Regions from separate parts of the Homo sapiens genome. Here region 1 is linked to region 2. Evidence: fine-mapped expression QTL. Tissue or cell type: lung. Region 2 holds a variant in brackets; the other region holds the start of a gene. All regions are shown on one strand. Distances are between the middles of the regions.

What was found. PIP is the estimated chance that this variant, and not a neighbour inherited with it, causes the effect.
Region 1: it holds the start of AMDHD2, and the variant in region 2 is fine-mapped to the expression of AMDHD2 in lung (GTEx, PIP 0.98).

What each region holds. Positions count from the first base shown.
Region 1 is chr16:2,519,410-2,521,909 of GRCh38, forward strand. AMDHD2 (amidohydrolase domain containing 2) reads left to right here and starts at 962. Exons shown (of 11, transcript NM_001330449.2): 1 at 962-1,132; 2 at 1,360-1,496; 3 at 1,575-1,714. The coding sequence starts at 1,050. ATP6V0C (ATPase H+ transporting V0 subunit c) reads left to right here. Exons shown (of 3, transcript NM_001694.4): 3 at 132-809. The coding sequence ends at 336. RefSeq lists silencers at 828-937, 1,108-1,177.
Region 2 is chr16:2,597,391-2,600,138 of GRCh38, forward strand. It overlaps PDPK1 (3-phosphoinositide dependent protein kinase 1), which reads left to right. Exons shown (of 14, transcript NM_002613.5): 14 at 261-2,748. The coding sequence ends at 377. Among named protein-coding and RNA genes, the nearest start is that of FLJ42627, 40 kb to the right of the region's middle. The variant C/T (reference allele first, on the strand shown) is at 1,527.

The DNA.
Region 1 (2,500 bases), 78 kb before region 2:
TGGGGTCAGGCCCCTGCCCAGGGCTGGAGGACTGCAGGGAGGGGGGCGGTTCACCTGTGGGTGGTGACCCGGACCCTTGTCTCCCCCTGGTTGGCAGGCTGCTGATGTCAGTCCTCTCTTCTCGCCCCCAGGAGCTTCCTCCAGCTGGGCGCCGGCCTGAGCGTGGGCCTGAGCGGCCTGGCAGCCGGCTTTGCCATCGGCATCGTGGGGGACGCTGGCGTGCGGGGCACCGCCCAGCAGCCCCGACTATTCGTGGGCATGATCCTGATTCTCATCTTCGCCGAGGTGCTCGGCCTCTACGGTCTCATCGTCGCCCTCATCCTCTCCACAAAGTAGACCCTCTCCGAGCCCACCAGCCACAGAATATTATGTAAAGACCACCCCTCCTCATTCCAGAACGAACAGCCTGACACATACGCACGGGGCCGCCGCCCCCAGTAGTTGGTCTTGTACATGCGCAGTGTCCTAGTGCCCATCGTCTGTTTCCCCGGCCTTGCCCCCGCCCGCCCCGTGCCGTGGACATCTGGGCCCACTCATCGCCCCTCCAGGCCCCCGGCGCCCCACCCCCTAGAGTGCTCTGTGTATGCGGATGATTTAGAATTGTCATTTCTCTTTACTGGATGTTTATTTATAAAGATCTGGCCTGTTCCTGCGTCTGCGGAGCGGCCCTTGTCTCCCAGCTATCTATAACCTTAGCTAGAGTGTCGCCTTGTGGGTTCCTGTTGCTGAGACTTCCTGGATGGAGCCGCCCTCACCGCCGGGCCCGTGGCCCTGCGCGGAGCTGTGTCCAATAAAGTTCTTGGATGTGACGGGCCTGTGTCTGCTCAGCTTGTTGGGGGCGGGGGCGGGCGGGCGGGCGGGCGGGCGCCGGGCGCTGCCGGTCACGTGGGCTGGCTCGATCACGTGGGCGCGGCGGTCACGTGGCGCGCCGCTTCAGTCAGCTGAAGGTCACGTGGGCGCGGTCTCAGCTCTCGGCTGGGGTTCGTCACTGGGCGCGGGATTTGGCCGCCGCGGGGCTCCGGAGCCGCTCGCTCCCGACACGGCTCACGATGCGCGGCGAGCAGGGCGCGGCGGGGGCCCGCGTGCTCCAGTTCACTAACTGCCGGATCCTGCGCGGAGGGAAACTGCTCAGGTGGGCGCGGGCCGGGGACTGCGGGGCTGGGGACCGGGCGGGGTGCAGGGTGCGGGGCCGGGGACCGGGCGGGGTGCAGGGTGCGGGGCCGGGGACAGGGCGGGGTGCAGGGTGCGGGGCCGGGGACCGGGCGGGGTGCAGGGTGCGGGGCCGGGGACCGGGCGGGGTGCAGGGTGCGGGGCCGAGGTCAGGCCCGCGATGCGAGCGCCCACCCACTGCGTCCCCAGGGAGGATCTGTGGGTGCGCGGAGGCCGCATCTTGGACCCAGAGAAGCTGTTCTTTGAGGAGCGGCGCGTGGCCGACGAGCGGCGGGACTGCGGGGGCCGCATCTTGGCTCCCGGATTCATCGACGTGCAGATCAACGGTGCGGCCCGGGGCCGGCAGGGGAACCCAGGGGAGGAGCTCTGAGCTCCATGCGACACTTCCTTTTCTGTGGCTGCAGGTGGATTTGGTGTTGACTTCTCTCAAGCCACGGAGGACGTGGGTTCGGGGGTTGCCCTCGTGGCCCGGAGGATCCTGTCGCACGGCGTCACCTCCTTCTGCCCCACCCTGGTCACTTCCCCACCGGAGGTTTATCACAAGGTGAGGTGAGGCTCCCTGGCTGAGGTGGAGGGGGCTCCCGGAGCAACCAGCGCCCTCATTTTCAAACTCACGCCCCACCCCCCACCCCCAGCACGTATTCCATGGTCCTGAGTCTGGCCTCCTTTGATGACCGGATCTGGGCCTGGGTCCCGCCCCTGTGCTTCTTTATCAGTTGTCGCTCTGCCTGGCCTCCCTAGACCCTCTGTCCTCCGCAGCTGTCTCCACACTGCTGGCTCAGCACCGTCTGAGCCATAGGCCGTCCCCACCCCCTGCACTGCACTCTGGCTGCCTCCAGGCTTCAGAAACCATCCCCTTAACCAAGGCCGCAGGGGATTCTGTGATTGGCACAGCGATAGTCCCTGGTCAGGCTCTTCCTCCCTAACCTGTCTGATGTGTGACTCAGTGGAACACGCCTTCCAGAAGAGACTCCCCCTGCTCCTGTACTGCTTGCCCCACGCTTCCATTTTCTTTCCTGCCCGGAAGAAATTTGGTTGTCCTTGGTCTTTTTTTATTTTAATTTTTACTTAGGTTCTACAGGGTTAACTTTTTGCTGTATGTTACTACTATTCAGGCTCCTCTTGGCTGTACCTGTGCTACTGTTTTTTACTGAACTATTTGAGAGTAGGTTGTATCCAACATGCTTTTTTTTTTTGTTTAGTTTTTTTTTTTTTTTTTTTTGAGACGGAGTCTCGCTCTGTCGCCCAGGCTGGAGTGCAGTGGCACAATCTTGGCTCACTGCAGGCTCCGCCCCCCAGGGTTCACGCCATTCTCCTGCTTCAGCCTCCC
Region 2 (2,748 bases):
GCCCTTTCCGACATCCCAGACGCCCACACTAGTGGCTCAGTCCTGAGGGGGCAGGGGACACCCTGTGCTTGTTTTTCAGTTTGGTGGTGACTGGGGGTGGTGGTCATCAGCCTGTGTAGTTGCTTACTGCTTGTGTGAATAACCGTCACACCCACGTGCTTTCAGGACTCGGAATGGCTGGTCGCAGGCAGCTCACCAGGTTGGGGTGGGGGTTTTGGTGGGACTCCCTGGAGAACACTAAACGGCTTCTGTCTTCGCAGCCTAACAGGACGTATTATCTGATGGACCCCAGCGGGAACGCACACAAGTGGTGCAGGAAGATCCAGGAGGTTTGGAGGCAGCGATACCAGAGCCACCCGGACGCCGCTGTGCAGTGACGTGGCCTGCGGCCGGGCTGCCCTTCGCTGCCAGGACACCTGCCCCAGCGCGGCTTGGCCGCCATCCGGGACGCTTCCAGACCACCTGCCAGCCATCACAAGGGGAACGCAGAGGCGGAAACCTTGCAGCATTTTTATTTAAAAGAAAAGAAGAAAAAAAACACCCAACCACACAAAGAACAAAACCAGTAACAAACACAAAGGAATTCAGGGTCGCTTTGCTTGCTCTCTGTGCTCCGTGGAGGCCTCCGTGTGCCCTCGTTGCCGTGGGGACCCAGCTCCATGCACGTCAACCCAGTCCCGCCCAGACTAGTGGACAGACCTGGTGTCACCAGTTTTTCCTAGCATCAGTCCGAACCATGCGCCCGCCCTGCCCCAACTGTGTGCTGGTCCTGCTGTGGCCGAGGGGACCGGGTGTGTTTGGCTCTTTATGCCCCTCCCGCTGTGGTCCTGGAACTCTTCACCAGGGAGGGAGCCCTGCGGGGGCCGCAGCTTTGTGGAGGGAGCCGCCGTGCTTCTGTCACCTGCTCCCTTTCTTGCGTCTCCCTGTGATGGGCCCTTAGGCCTGGCTGGGCCCATTACATATCCCTGTGGTGGCTCTGGTGGCAGCTTTCTGTGGCCCCTGCTGTGTTGGCAGGCAGGTTTGCGTGGTGAGGAGCGGGAGGGGTTGGAGTGGTGCGGGAGCAGGCTGCCGAGTGGAGGGTGCCATCGAGGGCTCCGGATCCCTTATCCTACTTAGCAGTGTTGGTCTCTGGGGCTGGAAGCCGAGCGCATGCTGGGAGCGGTACTGTCAGAAGTGAGCCCAGTTAGTACCCCGCTGGCTCACTGCACGAGAGAGTCCTGCCCCGAGCCCTAGGTGGGGCCAGGAGGTGCCTTGGAGAAGCCAGCCAGAGCAGAGAGGGCTGCTGACTTCCGTGTGGAGCAGAGAGGCCTGAGGGCCTCCTAAAAGGTTTAAATGTCCACGCCTCTCCAGTTGCTGAAGTAGGGTCTGAGAGAACCCTGGCATCAGCAGACCCAGGGTGCTTCTGTCTCCTGCAGACCACGCCAGGGAGTGCAGACACCACCGTCACACACGCCCCTTTTGTGTTTTGGTTCAAGTTTCTCAGAGCCCCTCAGAGCTTCTACATCTGTGCATCAGAAATCTCACAG[C/T]CTTCTCATGCTGCCGGCTCATCTGGGCCCATAGAGTGGGCTTTGCCAGTTGCTGTTGCACAGGAGGCGAGAACAGCACACTTCAACCCCAGCTTGCTGGTCGGCTTTCCTCTAGAGAGAGCCGGTTTTGGGGCCATTTCCCTTTGATGCTTTGGTGGCCTTGCCCCGCTCTGCAGCACAGACAGGCCAGATGCATTTGTCCTTTGCCTAGCTACTCCCCAGGTAGAGAGTGCTCCTGGTGGCCTGGCAGGTCTGGGCCCTTCTCTCCCTGCCCAGGTTGTCCCTGGAGGGCAGCCCTCACTCCCTTTGGGGGAGAGGCAGACATTGCTGCCCACAGACCTGCCTCTGACTCAACTGTGTCCACCCTCCCTGGTCCCTACCCCCAAGTCACAGGTGACTCAGCAGTGACCCTGTGTGCCAGGCCAGATCCAAACTGAGAGGGAAGGTGTCGTTTTTACACTGCTAATGACGAGAGTGGCTCTTTTTAGCTAGGCGAGTACAGACGGGGCCTGGGAGGGGGCAGAGATGTTCCCCAGGCCCTGCCTGTGGTTCCTGCCTGGGCCTTGGCTGCTGCTGTGTGAGAGCTGCATGTGAGCCTGTGACCGTGAGCTGGGGTGAGCTGGGCCGCACCTACCCTGGGGCCCCAGGGAGCAGGACGCTCCGGGGCCCAGCACGTTGCCCTGGGCCTGTGGCCGGAGTCGGAGTCCTCTCTCCTCCTCCTGGCTTTTGGAAAGGCTTGGCTGTGTTGGGGAGTCTCTCTTAGCCCTTTCAGGAATTTCTGTTCAGGCTTCCTCCTCCTCATCAGCTATTTTACCCATCTCAGAACGTCCTGTGTCTCCATGTAGGAGAGTGGCTCTCTCAGATCTCTCAGGGCGTCTGGTTATAGGGAAACAAGTGGAGCAGGGACGTGGCTTTAATTGGAGCACTCGGCTGGGCTGCTTGGGGAGACTCTTCCGTGCGTTCTTCCTCTGGATAGAACCACCACCTCCTGGGCGTCACTGACAAGCTCCATCTTAACCTCCAAAGCCACAGAACTAGGGGCTCAGAGCCAGAGCTGGCAGCCGCCAGCCAAAATGATGCCATTGCCTGAGCTGACAGCCAAGCCCTTCTGTGGGTCACCTTTCTCCTCACCCAGCCCCTTGCTCTTCCCTTTTGAAAGGCCCGTGTGTTTTCTTTCCTTACCCTGTGCTTGCTCATGTCTACTCCGGTTTTCTCTACCACA